Linked DNA regions of Homo sapiens. The protein of the gene in region 2 purifies or fractionates together with the protein of the main gene of each other region. This does not show direct contact. Each region holds a gene or a part of one and is shown on either strand. Other genes may lie near its edges.

The links.
Region 1: the proteins of TRA2A (region 2) and DAP3 purify together in Homo sapiens (affinity purification with mass spectrometry; 3 studies listed by BioGRID and IntAct, with this or other methods). This does not show direct contact.
Region 3: the proteins of TRA2A (region 2) and RBBP6 purify together in Homo sapiens (affinity purification with mass spectrometry; 3 studies listed by BioGRID and IntAct, with this or other methods). This does not show direct contact.
Region 4: the proteins of TRA2A (region 2) and NCBP3 purify together in Homo sapiens (affinity purification with mass spectrometry; 3 studies listed by BioGRID and IntAct, with this or other methods). This does not show direct contact.

Annotation. Positions count from the first base shown.
Region 1 is NC_000001.11:155,694,628-155,699,478, forward strand, and holds part of DAP3 (small ribosomal subunit protein mS29), read left to right. Parts: exon of another isoform or gene 1-4,386; intron 4,387-4,851. UniProt on the Homo sapiens protein: As a component of the mitochondrial small ribosomal subunit, it plays a role in the translation of mitochondrial mRNAs. Involved in mediating interferon-gamma-induced cell death. Displays GTPase activity in vitro.
Region 2 is NC_000007.14:23,507,126-23,512,553, reverse strand, and holds part of TRA2A (transformer-2 protein homolog alpha), read left to right. Parts: intron 1-5,018; coding exon 5,019-5,134; intron 5,135-5,428. UniProt on the Homo sapiens protein: Sequence-specific RNA-binding protein which participates in the control of pre-mRNA splicing.
Region 3 is NC_000016.10:24,569,603-24,573,751, reverse strand, and holds the end of RBBP6 (E3 ubiquitin-protein ligase RBBP6), read right to left. Parts: coding exon 3,253-4,149; intron 2,877-3,252; coding exon 1,307-2,876; 3' UTR 889-1,306; downstream 1-888. UniProt on the Homo sapiens protein: E3 ubiquitin-protein ligase which promotes ubiquitination of YBX1, leading to its degradation by the proteasome.
Region 4 is NC_000017.11:3,807,859-3,812,709, reverse strand, and holds part of NCBP3 (nuclear cap-binding protein subunit 3), read left to right. Parts: 3' UTR 1-55; coding exon of another isoform or gene 56-164; 3' UTR 165-4,851. UniProt on the Homo sapiens protein: Associates with NCBP1/CBP80 to form an alternative cap-binding complex (CBC) which plays a key role in mRNA export. NCBP3 serves as adapter protein linking the capped RNAs (m7GpppG-capped RNA) to NCBP1/CBP80.

The DNA.
Region 1 (4,851 bases), on a different chromosome or scaffold from region 2:
GCTGGGAGTGGAGATCTTGGTTCCAAAATCCTTTTCTCTTCTTTGGAAATTTGCTCATGGTAGAATTTAAGATGTCTTGTAGGTACCCAAACTGGAAGCTGGTTTTCTTCTGGGGAAATACAAACAAACCCTCTTCCCCATGTTATATCTCTCTTTTTCCCAGGTCTTTGTTTTAAAGTCCTTCCACCACACAGGTTTTCCTTCATGAACATTTACCTTCTGTCCTGTTAAATGCTCTTCAGCTGCTATAGTAACCTGATTGCGGAAGATGTTCAAAAAATTTAAGGTAACAAGAGCCAATTGTAACTGCATATGAGGGGTGGAATATTCCCTATCTCCCCCTATTTTCTTTTTATGTAATTGCATTTTTAAGGTTCAGTTGGCTCGCTCAACAATCGCTTGCCTTTGAGAATTATAGGGGATAACCGTACTGTGTTCAATGCTCTGTTGTTTTAAAAATGTTTGGAAAGATCTACTACAGTAGCCTGGTCTGTTGTCTGTTTTTAATTTTTGTGGAATTCCCATGACAGTAAAACAGGAAAGCAAGTGTCTTTTTATATGTGTTGTAGTCTGGCTGGTTTGGCAAGTAGACCATATAAATGAGAATATGTATCTATGGTCACATGGACATAAGAAAGTTTGCCAAATGCAGGAATGTGGGTGACGTCCATTTGCCAGATCATGTTAGGTGCCAACCCTCGAGGGTTAACACCAGTTCCTTGATACGGTAGTTGCAGTACCTGGCACTGAGGACGATGTTGTACAATGTCCTTGGCCTGTTTCCACATAATTTGATAGTTGTTTGTAAGTCCTGTTACATTAAGGTGTGTTAATGAGTGGAAAGTCTGGGCATCAGTAAGTATGGGGGAAACCAACAAGTCAGCTTGCTCATTAGCCTCAGTCAAGGGTCCTGGAAGATTGGTATGTGCTCGGATATGAGTTATATAGAAAGGAAAATCCCGAGCACACACAGCTGTTTGTAAAGAGTTGAACAATTGATAAAGCTGTTTATCAATAATATATTTAATTAAGGCAGTTTCAATATGCTGAGTAGCTTATACAACATAAGCTGAATCTGAAACAGTATTAACTGGCTGATTAAAATCTTCTAATACTGCAATCATTGCCTGTAATTTAGCTCTTTGGACTGAGGAAGAGTTAGTGTGGATAACTTTACCACAAGGTCCCACATATGCCGCTTTCCCAGTACTGGAGCCATCAGTAAAAACAATCATGGCTCCTTCCAAAGGGGCATCACGAGTAATTTTCGGAAGAACCTATGTAGTTAATTTTAAGAACTGGAAAATTTTATTTTTAGGATGATGATTATCAATACATTCAATAAATTCTGCTAAATTAACTTGCCATGTAACTGAGTTAATAAATGCCTGCTTAATGTGACTTTTATTTATTGGAACTATAATCTTATTGGGCTCAGTGCCATAAAGTTTAACAATTTGCATATGAGCCTGTCCAATTAAAATTGTGATCTGATCTACATAGACTGTAAGTGTTTTCATGGTATTATATGGCAAAAAAGACCATTCAACCAAATCATTATTTTGAACAATAACCCTCATTGAGGAGTGTGAAGTAGGGAACACAATGAATTGAAAAGGCAAGACTGAGTCAATCCTACTAACCTGGGCTTGCTGAATTTTTTTTTTTCAATTACTCTTAACTCATTCATGGCCTTGGGTGTTAATTCTCTTTTATGGTGTAAGTTGCAATCTCCCCTCAATATTTAGAAAATATTAGACATAGCATAAGTAGAAATTCCTAAGGTGGGCTGAATCCAATTAATGTCTCCTAACAATTTTTGAAAATCATTTAAGGTTTTTAAAGAATCTTTTCTGATTTGAACCTTTTGAGGCTTAATGGCTCTATCTTGTACTTGTATCCCCAAATATTGAAAAGGAAGAGTTGTTTGAATTTTGTCAGGTGTTATAAGCAATCCAGCATTTGTAATTGCCTTTTGCAAAGATGAATAACATTGAATAAGTTGGTCTCTATTTTTTGTTGCACATAGTATGTCATCCATATAATGAATGATGTAACAATCTGGAAATTGATCTCTAACTAGCTGGATAGCTTTGCCTACAAAAGTTTGACAAACTGTGGAACTGTTTAACATACCTTGGGGTAAAACCTTCCAATGATATCTGGCTGCAGGTTCTTTGTTATTAATGGCAGGGATAGTAAAGGCAAATTTTTCAAAATCTGTCTCTGCCAAAGGAATTGTAAAGAAGCAGTCTTTTAAATCTATAATAACAAGCAGCCAGTCTTTAGGGAGCATGGTGGGGGATGGGAGCCCTGGTTGTAAAGCTCCCATTGGTTGCATTACAGCGTTGACCTCTTGCAAGTCGGTCAGCATGCACCATCTACCATACTTTTTTTAAAATTACATATACTGGGGAATTCCAAGGAGAGAAAGTGGGTGAAATATATCCTTTTTCTAGTAGTTTTTTAACTATTTCATGGAACGCCCCCAAGTTTTTCTGAGGGAGCGGCCACTGTTCGACCCAGACAGGATGCTGCAGGGTGAGCCTGAATTGCTTCTTCACCATAGTGAACTGCAGGTTGGGCAGTAATGGGTGCGGCAAGCTGAGTTTCAGGCTCCCTCCCCCTGCACTCACTCAGCTGAGGAGGAGGTGGCCATTCCGGACATTTCTCTGAAGAAGCTGCGGGCTGAACAATTTTCTGTGTAGGTTTAGGGAGACCGGGGGGATTGGTAGAAATCACCTCCGGTATCGGGGGAACCAGCCCCCAATATTTCAACATAGGTTCTATTTTCCGTAAGTGTGCCAGTCTGAGAAATAAAGAGAAAGAGTGCAAAAGAGAAATTCTACAGCTGGGTCTCCGGGGGTGACATCACATTTCAGCAGGTTCCATGATGCCCCTGAGCCGCAAAACCAGCAAGTTTTTATTATGGATTTCAAAAGGGGAGGGGTGTACGAATAGGGAGTGGGTCACAGAGGTCACATGCTTCAGAGGCAGTAAAATATCACAAAGGCAGAGAGGCAGAGCGAGATCACAAGGCCAGGGCGAAACTAGAATTACTGATGAAGGTCCATGTCCCGCTGGGCACATTGGACGTTGATATTGATAAACATCTTAACAGGAAACAGGGTTCGAGAGCAGACAACCGATCTGACTAGAATTCGCCAGGCTGGAATTTCCTAATCCTAGCAAGCCTGAGGGTGCTGCAGGAGACCAGGGCATATTTCATCCCTTATCTCCAACTGCATAAGACAGACACTCCCAGAGCAGCGATTTTACAGATGTCTCCCTGGGAATGCATTCGTTTTCCCAGGGTTATTCCTTGCTGAGAAAAGAATTCAGCGATATTTCTCCTATTCGCTTTCTGAAAGAAGAGAAATATGACTCTGTTCTGCCTGGCCCCACAGGCAGTCAGACTTTATGGTTATCTCCCTTGTTCCCCGAAAATCGTTGTTATCCTGTTCTTTTCAAGGTGCCCAGATTTCACATTATTCAAACACAAATGCTTTACAAACAATTTGTACAGGTAATGCAATCATCACAGGGTCCTCAGGCGATATACATCCCCAGCTTACGAAGATGACGGGATTAAGAGATTAAAGTAAAGACAGGCATAGGAAATTATAAGAGTATTGATTGGGGAGGTGATAAATGTCCATGAAATCTTCACAATTTATGTTCAGAGATTACAGTAAAGACAGGTGTAAGAAATTATAAAAGTATTAATTTAGGGAACTAACAAATGTCCATGAAATCTTCACAATTTATGTTCTTCTGCCATGGCTTCAGCCGGTCCCTCTGTTTGGGGTCCCTGACTTCCTGCAACACTCTGGACTCTCCCTTTTTATTAGTACTTGGTAGGGGTGGTTCAGAGTCCTGATCATTAAACTCCTCTCTCTCCTCTGACTCAGCCTCATCATCTATCTGAAAAGCCTCCAGTGCTGTACACACCAATGACCAAACTGACCAAACAGGCAAAGGAATTTCCTTTCCCTTTCTTTGTGCTCTTTTAAGGTCCTTTCCAATTCTTTCCCAATCTTTCAATTCCAAAGTTCTCTGTTCCGGGAACCAAGGGCAAAATTGTTCCACAGCATAAAACAAATCCATAAGATTTTTTGTATCAACTTTTACACCACTACGCTTCAAGAGCTGCCATAGCAAGCTCAAATACATGGCGTACTTACTTTCAGTTTGTCCCATTTGTGTCCCTAGCTTTCTCCAAGTGCCCCGCTCACCTGCGGAGCTTAAAACTTTTTCGTCTTTGGGAGTCCTTTGTCTGTCGGTCCTCCATTTCACACGCTTGAGCATGCCTTCACTGGATTCTTTCGGGCCTCATGTTGGGCACCAGAATGTAGGGGACCAGCCTCAACACCATCCGTAGGGTACCTGAAGTCCGGTGGCGACAAAGGAATGAGAAGAGACAGGTTAAGAGTTCATAAAGGTGGGAGCCAGGGGGCCAGTTGCAAAATGGAGGCTGCAAAAGGCCCAGAGTTCTGGTCTCTACACTATTTATTGAGTATAATCACTTAGATCTAAGAAGCAGATGTTCAGGGCAAAACTGTGAAAGGGAGGCAGTACGTCATACACGTAATGTGTAGCAGAGGCGGTTTAAGTGAATCTCCTTTGTGCTCAAGCAGCATATCTTTAGTTAGCTGGTGGGAGTGGGCTTAACTAGGAGCCTGCATATCTAGCCACATTCCAATGCTTCAGAGGAGCGTCTTTCTTCTTGAGCACAGTGTTTATAGATAAGAGAGCAGGTTGTGCTCAGAGCATGGGAACATAATGGTGATCAGAAGACTTTCCTCCTCAGAGTCCTCTTGTGGCTTTCCACAACTTATTGTCCCATATTTT
Region 2 (5,428 bases):
CCGGGAGGCAGAGCTTACAGTGAGCCGAGATTGCGCCACTGTACTCCAGCCTGGGCGACACAGTGAGACTCCGTCTCAAAAAAAAAAGATAGGATCTTGCTGATTTTGCTCTGTTGCCCAGGCTGGAGTGCAGCCTCGACCTCCTGGGCTCAAGCAGTCCTCCTACCTCAGCCTCCTGAGTAGCAGACACTACAAGTGTGGGCCACCATGCCCAGATAATTTTTTGTTGTAGAGATGAGGTCTCACTATGTTGCCCAGGCTGATCTCGAACTCCTGGCCTCAAGTGATCCTCCCAGAATGCTGGGTTTACAGGCATGAGCCATCATACATGGCCTGTTGTGTCCTTTCTAATTTTGACCTGATTCAAACTCTGCCTCTCAGTGTTAACAATTGGAGTGACTACAGTTTCACTTTTTTTGGTTATGCTCTCTGCTATAGGCATATCCTAATTGAAATCTGGCTGTGTAAAGTGAGCTATATGTGTTTAAATTAATGGAAAAAGTATATGTGTAAGTGTTCTCTTTTGAATAAGCCATAATGATGCTCCAAACAGATGATTACATTAACTTTTAAAAAATAATTCTGATGTGTGGGTTTGATATGTTTAATTTTGTGTCTATAATGAGGAAGGAACTTGTTTTTCTATTCTCTAAATGTTCATTTATCAGTGTGTTCAATAATTGAAAAATAGTACATGGAAAGAATTGATAATTTTTTAGTGCTATTCTTAACTTGCCTAACACAATGAACTAATCAATGTCAATGACTTGAAATAGTGCTATTCTAACATGTTCGGTATTATAAAGGAAGTGGTAGGCTTGCTTTAAGTTTTTGCAGGGAGTCTTGCTGTGTTGCTTAGGCTGGTCTCGGAACAACTCCTGGCCTCAACTGTTCCTCCTGCCTTGGCTTCCCAAGGTGCTAGAATTACTGATGTGAACCACCATACCTGGCCTAGGCTCGCTTACTCTTTACTAAAAGTTGATAGTAATTGATTTAGAAAATTGCATTTTAAAGAATTTGAAGCTCAATACTTTTAGTTTTGTTAGACCTTCTGTCTTTTAAATTAATATATATATATTTGTATATATCTGGAAGTTTTATTAGACCTTAATAATCAGGGTGTTTTTCTTTTCTTTTCTTTTCTTTTTTTTTTTTTTTTTTTTTTTTTTTTTTTTTTTTTTTTGAGATGGAGTCTCGCTCTGTCGCCCAGGCTGGAGTGCAGTGGCGCGATCTCAGCTCACTGCAAGCTCTACCTCCCGGGTTCATGCCATTCTCCTGCCTCAGCCTCCCGAGTAGCTGGGACTACAGACGCCCGCCACCATGTCCAGCTAATTTTTTGTATTTTTAGTAGAGGCAGGGTTTCACTGTGTTAGCCAGGATGATCTCAATCTCCTGACCTCGTGATCCACCCGCCTCAGCCTCCCAAGGTGTTGGAATTACAGGTGTGAGCCACCGCGCCTGGCCAAATAAGGCTATCTTTTAAAAACAGTAAGTTCTTGGCATCTGGTGGGTAGAAGCCAGGAACACTGCTAAATAACCATACAGTACACAAGCTGGCACCCCATAACATAGAATCAGTCTCAAAATGTCAATAGTGCTAAGGTTGAGAAACCCCGGATAACTCTAACAAACTAGTACTTTAGTTTTTAAGTCATTTATGTCACAGGCAGTTTAATGCCTTAATTTGTCAGTCTTATGATTTTTTTTTTTACTGTTACGTATTTGTGATTTATATATTCCTTTTCTCAATTAAGAGATACATGTTATCAATTTAGAAATACTAGGATATCTGAGCTGAAGTAAAAGTTGCAAAATGCAAGCCAGAACAGTGTAATTTTTTTATTATTAATATTTTTTAATGTGAAACGTGTTTATCTCTTGATTCCACCTGTCCCCTTCCACTTCTGGATAAAACTAAAATGGCAGGCCGGGCACAGTGGCTCGCACCTTGTAATCCCAGCACTTCGGGAGGCTGAGGCGGGCAGATCACCTGAGGTCAGGAGTTCAAGACCAGCCTGGCCAACAGGGTGAAACCCCATCTGCTAAAATACAAAAATTAGCCGGGCATTGTGGCAAGCGCCTGTAACCCCAAGCTACTCGGGAGGCTGAGGCAGGAGAATTGCTTGAACCTAGGAGGCGGAGGTTGCAGTGAGCTAAGTTTGTGCCACTTCACTCCAGCCTGGGCAACAGAGTGAGACTCCACTTCATCTCAAAAAGAAAAGAAAAAAAAGCTTAACTGGCAACTTTAAAGACAGGAGCAGTTACTTAGTGGCAGGATTAGAAGTTCCTTTTAGTTCACTAGGTGACAATATGTTACTTAAGGAGCGGGGTGACGAGGCTTGTCAGCTAAATCACAGTTTCTCTTTTCAGTTGCCCAGGCTGAATTCTCAGCTAACACAGGCATGTTGTATGGTTTCTTCTGTATGGCTGAGACTGTCTCCAGTCTTTAGGGACAGGCAATCTGAAGTGATTTGATTTTTTTCTTTTTTTGTTGTTTGTTTGTTGTTTCTTTGTTTGTTTGGAGATGAGGTCTTGCTCTTTGCCCTGTCGCCTAGGCTGGAGTGTGGTGGCACGATCTCAGCTCACTGCAACTTCCGCCTCCCAGGCTCAAGTGATCTTCCCACCTTAGCCTCCCGAGTAGCTGGGACAACAGGTGCGCACCACCATGCCCGGCTAATTTTTGTATTTTTTGGTAGAGACGGGGTTTTGCCCCATTGCCCAGGCTAGCCTCAAACTCTGGACCTCAAGTGATTTGGCCTCCCCAAAGTGCCAGGATTACAGGCATGAGCCACTTCACTTGGCTAAAGTGATTTTTTTTTTTTGAGACGGAGTCTTGCTCTGTTGCCAGGCTGGAGGGCAGTGGCACAATCTCGGCTCACTGCAACCTCTGCCTCCCGGGTTCAAGCAATTCTGCCTCTGCCTCCCGAGTAGCTAGGACTATAGGTGCATGCCACCACACCCAGCTAATTTTTGTATTTTTAGTAGAGATGGGGTTTCACCATGTTGGCCAGGATGGTCTTGATCTCTTGATACCTCATGATCCCCCCATCTTGGCCTCCCAAAGTGCTGGGAGTACAGGTGTGAGCCATCGCGCCCAGCCTAAAGTGATTTTTAAAATCTTTTTAAAATTTGTATTCCTTTTTGACTAACTTCTCCCTGATTCTGAAAATTTCACTGAAGTTTCAAAGTTATTAGTGTGCATATGGTGAAGATAATAATATAAGCTCCTCACCCTGTTTTAGTAAGAAGTACTTAGAGATTTTGTGTGTGTTTTTTTGGGGGGTGCTTAGGATGGGGTGCAGGGAGATCAACTTAGAGAATTTTGATTTTTGGAACTTCAAATGGAAGATGTGTTAAATTTGTTGCAGCTTTGCTTTTGCAGACATTTATGTGATGTAAAGTTCTTTTTAAAAATTGGACCGGGTGTGGTGGCTCATGCCTCTAATCCCAGCACTTTGGCAAGAGGATTTACTTGAGCCCAGGAGTTTGAGACCAGCCTGGGGAAACATAGGGAGACTTGGTCTCTACAAATATATATATGTGTGTGAGAGAATAGGAAAAAAAAATTGTCCCAGAAACAAATAATACTCTCAGAGTTCTTTTCAAAGAGACCAAAGAGACAACTCTTATCTTCAAGAATTAGGCTGTGCAAGGCGGCTCATGCTATTTGGGAGGCTGAGGTGGGAAGGCCACTTGAGGCCACGAGTTAAGAGACCAGCCTGGGCAACAGATCTTGTCTCTACAAAAATAAATGCATGCAGGCCAGGCGTGGTGGCTTACGCCTGTAATCCCAGCACTTTGGGAGGCCAAGGCAGGAGGATCACAAGGTCAAGAGATCGAGACCATCCTGGCCAACATGGTGAAACCCCATCTCTACTAAAAATACAAAAAATTAGCTGGGCATGGTGGCGCATGCCTGTAGTCCCAGCTACTTGGGAGGCTGAGGCAGGAGAATCACTTGAACCTGGGAGGCAGAGGCTGCAGTGAACCGAGGTCACGCCATTGCACTCCAGCCTGTGCAACAAGAGCGAAACTTGGTCTCATAAATAAATAATAAAATGCATTCCATTGAATGGAATACTGTTTAGACCCCTTCTCTACCAAGAATTTTTGTTTTAATTAGCCGAGCATGGTGGCACAAACCTGTGGTCCTAGCTACTTAGGAGACTAAGGCTGGAGGATTGCATAAGCCAAGAAGTTTGAGGCCACAGTGAACTATGATCCACTGCCAGCCTGGGCAATGGAGTGAGACCTCCTTTTTTTTTTTTTTTTTTTTTTAATGACCTTTAGTTTATGGGACACTCTTACGGAGAAATATTTGTGGATACATAAAAATTGTGTAGTTTTTATTAGTTTATTATACTTTTATTAGTTCAGTCTCAATAAAAGGTTGAAAGGCATTACGATAAATTTGTTCTTGTCTGTTTATATCATTTCTTCTTGGCTGCTCACTGAGTCTTAATCAGTGTACTAGACTGCAAACTAAAGAATAAGATTGGGGGCAGGTTATAAAAAGAACATGTATAAAGCTTAGCAAACCCTTTTTAATGTTCTGAAGTCAGTCTTTGTAAGTGAAATCGCTGGAGACTAGAAAGTATGAAATGGCAGTCTACCTGGGCAACCTACAAAAAATTTAGCTTGAAAAGACTTCAGTCTCCGCTCCCCTGTTGATCTCATGGAGTGGGGAATGGGAATTGAACCAGAACTGGAAAATTATTTAGGAAAGTTTGTTAACTACTCTTTGTTGATCTCATGGAGTGGGGAATGGGAATTGAACCAGAACTGGAAAATTATTTGGGAAAGTTTATTAACTACTCTTTCTGCTGAGTAAATTTAAATGTGTTCTGGACATTGTTGAGGTCTAGAATTGTCTATACAATGCCCTGTACAAGCTACATTGCTGTCATTTTCAAAATCAGGAGTTTATTTGGATTACATATACTTTGTGCTTAATTTTAAGTAATGATTACTTCAAGACTGGTGAATTATACGTGACTTTTTGTGCCTGTTCTTTATAGGCTATGGAAAGGGCAAATGGAATGGAGCTGGATGGTAGAAGAATTCGGGTGGATTATTCTATAACCAAGAGAGCGCACACACCAACACCAGGCATCTACATGGGCAGACCAACTCAGTAAGAGTTCAAGTTTCCTAAGCTAAACTATGAAATCCACCAGAAATATGTGCAAAATTTTGATTACTCAGAAACTTTTTTCCTATAATTAGAATTGATTCTGGCAAGGGGCAACATGGCAAAACCCTGCTTCTACTAAAAAAAAATAAAAAATCAGCCAGGTGTGGTGGCACATGCCTGTAATCCCAGCTGCTCGGGAGCTGAGGCACAGGAATCACTTGAACTTGGGAGGCAGAGGTTGCAGTGAGCCTGGGCAACAGAGTGAGACTCTTTCTCAAAAAAGAAAAAAAACAT
Region 3 (4,149 bases), on a different chromosome or scaffold from region 2:
TTAAGGGCGGAGCAAGATGTGCTTTGTTAAACAGATGCTTGAAGGCAGCATGCTCGTTAAGAGTCATCACCACTCCCTAATCTCAAGTACCCAGGGACACAAACACTGCGGAAGGCCGCAGGGTCCTCTGCCTAGGAAAACCAGAGACCTTTGTTCACTTGTTTATCTGCTGACCTTCCCTCCACTATTGTCCTACGATCCTGCCAAATCCCCCTCTGCGAGAAACACCCAAGAATCATCAATTAAAAAAAAAAAAAAAAAGTGAGACTCCATCTCAAATAAGAAAAAAAAAGATTATCTCAATCCCTACTTATACCACTATGTTTCTAAAGTGCCATTCCTACTCTCCCTCATTCCCCACATCCTTTCAGTACCTTTTCACTGTCCCCAGGTACACTTCCCGAACCACAGCAATAAAGGAAACTCATCGTAAGTAATGACCGCTTGCTTGTCAACTGGGCAGATTGGGTAGGCCACAAGCACTCACTGGTTTAGCTGCATTCTCCTTTATCAAGGAATTTAATACTTATTTATCAGGGTTTCCAGAAAAATACGTGGCCATAAACGAGTCACAATTCTGCATCTCTAATATTCAAATCCAAACCATTTTGAAAGTTCAAACTTCGAATTTCTATGTAATTCAAGACTCTCCTAGATTTATTTAACCACATCTCCAATTAATCCTGATTCATTTCTGGCCTCTACCACCTGCCCACCTATGAAATGTATCTTCCATGTTTAATTTAGAATTCTGTATATTCAGTTCAGCTTGTATTAAAAACTAAGAATTTTAAAATAGGAAAATGGAGACACACATACAACCTGCATCTGGTGGGTTAAGTATACAGATATGGCACTACTTTCTGTAAATAATGCAAATACTCAACATTTGAAAAGTTTACTGAAAACTTTTATTGTAATCAAAAAGTGACATAACAGGGTTGTAATGAATTCAGCAAATCATTCTGCTGATATTTTAGAACTTATATCAGCTTTTGCCAGGCAATTAAAAAATTCAAATGTGAAAATTTCACATTACAGTAAACTCCACCCCAACTAATTAATGGTGGTTAAAAATAATAGGCCCTAGCAAAACCTCTCATGTTACATGGTCACAACTCACAATTCTGTACAAAAGTTCGTGTTATAAAGCTCTGATGTAAAAATCAAATAATCAAGCAGCAATATTTTAAGTGCAGCACAGGGTCTTCCATGTCATTATTTACAAGGCTTGAATCTCTTTACATTATAACAAAATTTAATACAGATGACTTAGTAATTAAGTCAATTTAAAAAATCTGTCTTTTTACACAGTGACAGATTTCACTTTTTGGTCATCTTTCTCCTTCTCCTTCTCTTTATCTTTGTTCTTCTTTGACTTCTTTTTCTTGTGTTTGTGTTTTTGGCTTTTTTCCAATTCCACTTCAGTGCCTGCATGTTTCTTATGCTTCTTATGCTTTTTATGTTTCTTGTGTTTTTTCTTTTCCTTCTTTTTCTTCTTCTTCTTGCTGTCCTGACTTTCTGCTGAGCTGGCACTGCTACTGTGGCTTCGGGTCTGGCTTCCAGAAGGACTGTGGCTTCTGCTGGGGCTGACGCTGGGGCTGCTGTGGCTCTGATTCCTGCTTATGCCCACCTGGACAACTGCTGCTGTGTCCAGGCTCTCTTTTGCTTTCTCCACTATTTTATCTTTCAGGTCCTTAGAAATGTTTCCTGAAGATTCCTCTTCTTTTACAGAAACATTACTTTCACTGTCACTTTCATTATAGTCTGGTTCAAAAGCAGCTTCATCAGTTTCTCTAGTTAAGTCAGAGGAAAGTCTAGAGGAATGACTTAACTGGGGTTTAGGCTTGACAGTACTCTTGTCAATTTGCCCAGTAATTTGCTCTTTTTCAACCTGTGTCTCTGGTGGGTTAAGTATATAAAGTAGTTTATTGCCACTTGACTCTTTATTGTTCCTTGCTTCTAATACATGCTTCTCACGATCCTTACAAGGATTTTTATCTACAGATTTTGTCTCTTCATTTGGCCGTTTAGTATCATAAGTGGCTTTGTGATCATGAGGTTTTCTGTCTCTTGAGGGACTAGAATTACTTTTTTTGGAATCTCCTGTTCCTTTTTTAGGCAAATCTCTCTCTTCCCTTGGTTTATTTTTCTGTCCAGATGCAGAATCTTTATTCCGAGAAGGAGAGTCTTTTCGTCTTGTTAATTCATTCTTTTCATCTCTACGTTTGGAACTTGAATACTCTCTGGTGTCATAGTCAGTTTTTTTGTCTCTATTGGGAGTGAAGTCTTTATTTGAGGAAGCACGAGTGGAATCATGTTTATCTGACGTTCTAGCCTCTTTGGAAGATTGAGACAGACTTTTAAAATTTCCTTGTTCATTCAGACGGTCCAAATTACTCTCTTTCTCTGGCTGAGTGCTGTTCTTCCTCTTTTCAGGGTTCTCCTTTTCCAACACTGAATAATCTCGATCTTTGGTTTTCCCTTTTTCACTAGATGCAGAGTTTTTTGAACTTTTAACCTCATGTTGTATGATTTCATGGCTCACGTCCTTGGTGAATTTCTGAATTTTCTCGGATGGCTCACTTTCTTTCTCAGGATACTTGACTATATTTGATGGCTTTGTACTAACATTTTTTATAACACTAGCAGGTTTTCCTACACTTGATATAGGCTGTGTGGATTTAACATCTTCTTCTTCAGATTCAAAGTCATCTTTATCCCATTTGGATTGAGGAACCTGAATCATAATGATAACATCTTCAGCTGGCGCGGTATTGTCATTATTATATTCTTCCATCGTTTTAATCACAGTTCGCTTTGTATCTGTTTTTTCTTCAGATTTCCGCACAGGACTGCCTCCAGTTGAGCTCGTACTAAAAAGAATAACAAAATATTTTTAATTAATGAAGAATTTACTATTAATTATAAAACACTGATAAATATAAAAATGCTAACTTAAACACAAATGTCCTTTTAACATTAAAAAAAACAAAAAACTTATTCTGCCCTAAGGAAGACACACAATTTAAGATTATGATTGTATCAACACAAATGTGGCTCACCCCCAAAATCTATTTACAACCTTGTCTTTGGCAATTCCCTTCTTCAAAGACAACAAAAGACTACATAAAACCAGCCTACTTCCCTAGATCAGCATTCATAATTAATATAAAAAGCACAAGCATGGATAAAACTGAAGAAAATCCTTCTCCCAACAAAGTTCCACACCCACCCCCTACACTCAGCTACCTGGTGTAATCCACCAGAGTTGAGCTGGATCCTTCAGTTCCAGTCACTTTTCGTCTGACCTTTCCTTTGACTTTTTCTTGTTTAACTTTGCTAGATGTTGACTCCAATTTTTCAGAGGGTTCTTTTGTGTTTGATATATTTTCTGTACTTCCAATTTTCTTCCCAGTTTCTCTGTTGAGTTTGATTTTTTTGGCTGGCGCACTTAAAGAAATTTTGTCCTTTTCAGGGGTCCTATCCATTTTTTCAGTATCAGGTTCCATTTTGCGCTTTGGTGATGGTTTCACTATTTCAGTCACTTCTAGTTTCGAGATTTTCATTGAAGAAGACTCAAAATCTTTATCTACGCCTTTTTCTTCAGTTTTTCTTTTTCTTTTTTCTCCCTTATTATCAAGTGGTTTGTTTTTCTCATTAGGCTTCTTGGCCTTTTCTTCCTTAGTTGTTAGCTTTTCTGATTTGACATCTTTGGAATAGTCCTTCTTCACTTTTTCCTCTTTGACTGGTTTTGTTTCTTGGTGTTCTTTTGCTGATTTAGAGTGAGCTTTTCTGGGGGTTCCAGTGATTTTTTCATCCTTCTGAGAGGAAGATGATGATTTAGTATTGTCAGTCTTCGGAGTCTCCTCTTTGGCTTTTTTAATTGGAGGTTCAGATCGAGGAGATCTCTCACGTTCTCCATCTACTTTTTCTTGGGGTCCTTTAGCAGGTTTTACAATATTTTCTTTTTTGGACACAGCAGATCCATCATTCTTCCGTTTGGTTTTATCACCCTTTGCTTTTGGTTTATCCCTTTCTCTCTTGTCTTTTTCAGACACTGATTTAAAAGTGATTGATTCTGCATCCATTGGTTCATCTCTAACAGGTGTGGCATCATCTCTACTTGGGAGAACAAACAATGAGTCT
Region 4 (4,851 bases), on a different chromosome or scaffold from region 2:
AGTTCATCCAAAGAGCAGAGAACTGAACTTCTCACTATTGCCTTGGCCCTGACAGCTGTTACCAGCACCCTTTTCCCAAGAAAAGTCAATTCCCAGGTGCTTATTGGACATCCTTCGAGGGGGAAGAGGAGGGAAGCGGCCAGCTCACCCTTCCGGGACCCTAGTGTGGGGCGAATCTCACGGACCTGACCTCAGAGGTGCACCAGTGCCGCCCAGGTAGATAAGAGCTGCAGCATTGACTGTGCTTCCGTTCTTCCCTCGGGGATTGCTCATGGCATGGGCCTCTTACGTGCTGTCAGCTTGATGTGAAGATCAAGTTCAGTGCTGTGGGATTTTTAGGAACAAAAAACTGTGACGTCTGGATTTGGGGTTGATTTTTGTGCTGGGGTGGGATTATGGGTCAATGTTGAAGAATTTTTAAGTCTGTATTATGTTTAAAACATGAATGATTTGAAAGTTTAAATTTTTAATTTTTATATGTGGAAATTCTTCCTGTTGGCTAAAGGGGAAGCTCAAGTGGTGTCGTCTTTTGTGCTGTTAAATATATATTCTATTCTTTGGAAGAAGGCAGAGAGAGGAGTCTTATTATTTTTAAATGCTCCTAGTTGTATAGTCTGTCTGTTGTACATAGAGTTCAGCTTGTTTTTTGGCTCCAGTAGGAAAAAAAATCCATCCATCTGAGATGGGGTCCTGTTGTTTATTATCACTCTAGAAGTTATACATTGATATTTATTCTTTCTGTCCCCACGTTGTGGCACCTGAAGACATCTTCAAAATTGGCAGAAAAGATAATAGTTATAAAAATTTTAGTTCATTTATTTTTAAACTCCTTTCAGATTATTTTACCATTAGGAGGAGGTAGATTGTTTCGTCTTCCTGTCTGATTTTTGTTTTGTAGTATTTAATTTTGTATTCCTCTGCAGTTTTAAGAAACAGTGTTTTTCTTCGGTTTGCTGGAACATGGGCGTTAGAGATGGTAATAAACCGTGGTCCTTTTTGCGATGTCACGACTCTTCACCTGCCTGGGCTGTTGTGCACACAGTGCAGCCTGGATCCTGTCGATCTTTACTTGTGGCGGAGCTAATGGTCACATTGATAGTTGATTACACTGTGGCACGAATTAATGCAGAACACTGTTATTAATAAAGGAAGTAAAGGGCTGCAAGATTTGAGAGCTGCAACAAAAACTGTATTGTCCCATATTTTGTTGATTAACCTTGCTTTTTCTCCCTCCCTTTAGAGAGATTAGAGGATATAACCATGATATATTTCAGCTTCTTATTAGGATTCTAGGAAAGAGATGGTTCTGGTTTCTCTGCCAGTTGAGACTTAAGACATCTGAGATTTCTCAGCTTTTCTTTCCCTGTGAAGCATACAGCTGAGAGCCAGGTTCTTAGGAAGGGTCAGGGTTTGGGGAGTTGGTAGAGTGAGGAGTGCGGGGGCCTGAGAATCGGACACCTGGATGCCAACCCCTGGCTCTGCTCCATGGACCTGGGCCTCAGTTTTCCCGTCTAGCAGTTGAGTGGGCTGTTACCAGAATTCCTGGCTTTGTTGGTGCATCTCAGTGGCGGTTTACTCTTCCCAAGCTGTGACGGCAGTGGGCTCGCCAGCATGAATTTCTACTGCAGGTGGAGGAGGCGCCAGGGAGACAACTGAGGGCGCGCATGAGGTGTAGACAGGGGCTTATTCCCATCCCAGCACAGTCTCTGCTTCTACTGACGGGGCAAAGATGTCTTGTGGTCAGCGTCCCAGCTGGCATGCCTCTGCAGGGTTTAGAATATGCTCCTTCACAGACTTTCCTTTTGGTTTTACACCAGCAGCTCAGGTCCATTTGTTCCACGGCCTTTCAGCACTCAGCAGTCTCCTGCTACAGATCAGCGAAGCCATTCTGGAAGGAGGTGGTGTGCAGTCAAAACTGGGTCTTTGATGTAACCAAGAGAAATACACACTCGAGTAACCTTACAGTTTTCACAGACACACAGAGAGAACCCAGAAAGGCAGCTTTAAAGATTTTTACTTCTCGGAGTTACTGGCCTTATTAGTTTCTCTAACCCTCCTGCCCACTCTCAGTCACTCAGATCTTGCAACATCTTGAGTGTGTCCTGAATGATGAGGCCTTTTCTTTGGAGTTTAAGAGTAAGAATGGATAGTCAGGACAGGCCCGTGGCAGGCAGCTGGGCGTGATTTTACCCTGGACACTCCCCACACATGTGGGCACAGGGCTGCACACTTTGTGTGTTCCTCTTAGTCTTATGTGTAGGAGATTTTACATACATGTTTGCTGCTTGATGATAATTGCAGATACCTCATTTGTTTCCCACTCTCCTCTCTGGAGAGTTACCAGGTACCCAGGATAATTTGTGGCGTCCTCAGGATGTAGTCTCCTCCTCTGGCCCCCTTGTAGTCTGATCCTGTGAACCCCTCTCCGTTCTTCAGCCACTGCCCTTTCCAGCTGCATTTGTACAGCAGCCTCTTCACTGGTCTCTGCCCTGTCTCCATTCTGCACACTGCAGCGGGATGAACCTTTGTTGTTGTTACCAGCTTAATTTAGATGTAATTTGCATACAGTTCAGCCATTTAAAGTGTACACTTGAGTGGCTTTTAGTATATTTACAGTTATGCACCAGCACCGTAATCAATTTTAAAACACTTTGATCACCCAAAGAAACCCTGAGTCCATTAGCAATTCTCCCTATTCCCTCTTCCCTCTTAGCCTCTGGCCACCACTGATCTTCCTTCTCTCTCTGTGGATTTGCCTGTTCTGGATAGTTCATATAAATGGGATCATATACTATGTGTCTATTTGTGACTGGCTTCTTAACATATTTCTGAGGTTCATCCATGTCATAGCTTCTATCAGTATTTCATTTTTTAAAATTGCCAAATAATAGTCCATTTTATGGGTATGCCACCTTTTTTTTAATCCACATTGGTTAATGGGCATTTGAGTTGTTTCTACTTTAGGGCTATATATATATATTTCTATTTCTATTATTTATTTTTGAGACACAGTTTCGCTCTTGTTGTGCAGGCTGGAGTGCAATGGCACGATCTCGGCCCACTGCAACCTCCACCTCCGGGGTTCAAGCGATTCTCCTGCCTCAGCCTCCAGAGTAGCTGGGATTACAGGCATGTGCCACCACGCTGGCTAATTTTTTGTATTTTTAGTAGAGACAGGGTTTCACCATGTTGGTCAGGCTGGTCTCGAACTCCTGACCTCAGGTGATCTGCCCACCTCTTCCTCCCAAAGTTCTGGGATTACAGGTGTGAGCCACTGCACCTGGCCCTACTTTTTGGCTATTATGAATAGTGTTGCTACGAACATTCCCGAACAAGTTTTTGCAGGGACAGGTATTTTCATGACTCTTGGGTATATACCTAGGAGTGGAATTGCTGAGTCATAATTATCTTTAACCTTTTCAGGAACCACCAGGTGGTTTTTCCAAGCAGCTGTATCATTTTCCATTCCACCAGCAGTGTGCGAGGGTTCCAGTTTCTCCACATCTCCACCAACACTCATTATTTTCTGGTGTGAAGTGGTATCTCATTGTAGTTTTTTGTTTTTATTTTTTCTTTTTAAAATACATTTTGTACAGATGGGGTTTCGTTATGTTGCCCAGGCCGTCTAGCACTCCTGGCCTCAAGTGATCCTCCTGCCTTGACCTCCCAAAGTGCCGAGATTACAGGCATGAGCCACCACGCCTGGCTCTCATTGTGGTTTTGATTTGTATTTCCCTAATGACTAATGATGTCGGGCACCTTTTCACATGCTTCAGGATGAACTTTCTTAAATATATATCTGATTCTGTTATTCCTCTGCTTGAACGTTTTCCAAAGCTTCACTATTGCCCCGAGAATAAATTCCACACTCCTGATCGCATGAGCCCAGTAATTCAAGGCTGTGGTGAGCTATGATCAAGCCACTGCACTCCAGCCTGGGCAGCAGAGCAAGACCTGTCTCAAAAAATACATACATACATAAATTCCACCCTTTTTGATAGCATGTTATGAGGCTCACCAAGGTCTATCCTCTGGCAGTATCCCTGGCCTGTTCTCCCCATCTCCCCTGCCCTCTGCTCACCAGTTCCCTAAATGTATCTTGATCTCACTAGCCCTACAGACTGTGCACAGAGCTGTTTCTACCTCCAGTGACATGCTTCCGCCCAGGCTTCTCCCCCTCCCGCCTCAATCTTCCCCTCACCAACTTAAGGTCTTAGGGGCCCTTCTAGGAGGCAGTCCCCAACTTCCAGAGCCAGGGTATAGGCTACTTCTATGTGTCCCATGGTACTGCCACAGAAGAGTCTCAGCTCTCTCCAGGATTCAGTTCTAAGGTCAGTGCCTAAGATAAAAATGGAGTGTAATTAAAATTCCTCTTAGAAATCTAAGGAAGGTGCCCTATTGAAGACCAACATCTTGAGGTCCCATGTAGTCATTTCTTGCCCATGTGGGAACACATTACTGTTTGGTTGAGTACCAGGTGAAGTGATTGGCCTGCAGTTAGGGCTGTGTTGTGCAAAAATCACTTGTTTTGGGGTGTTAGAACCACATTTAGGCGAGAAGATCACTTTTGGGGAGCTTGGGAACTGAGGCAGGCCGCAGGTGCAGCAGAGGCATGAGCTTGCCCGGGCCCGCCCTCTTGTCTATGCTCATGGAGTGAAGGAGGGGCCAGCGGAATGGCCCAAACAACTGATTTGTTTTTCTTTTTTTAAATCTTTTTCAGACAAATACCATTGTGTTTAAGCGAAATGTGTGTATAATGCCAAATCACTGTACCCCACAACCCTGCACACCTCTACACTGGACTGTAATTTCTTGTTCCTAGTTTGTCTTGCTAGACTGTAAGCTCCGTGA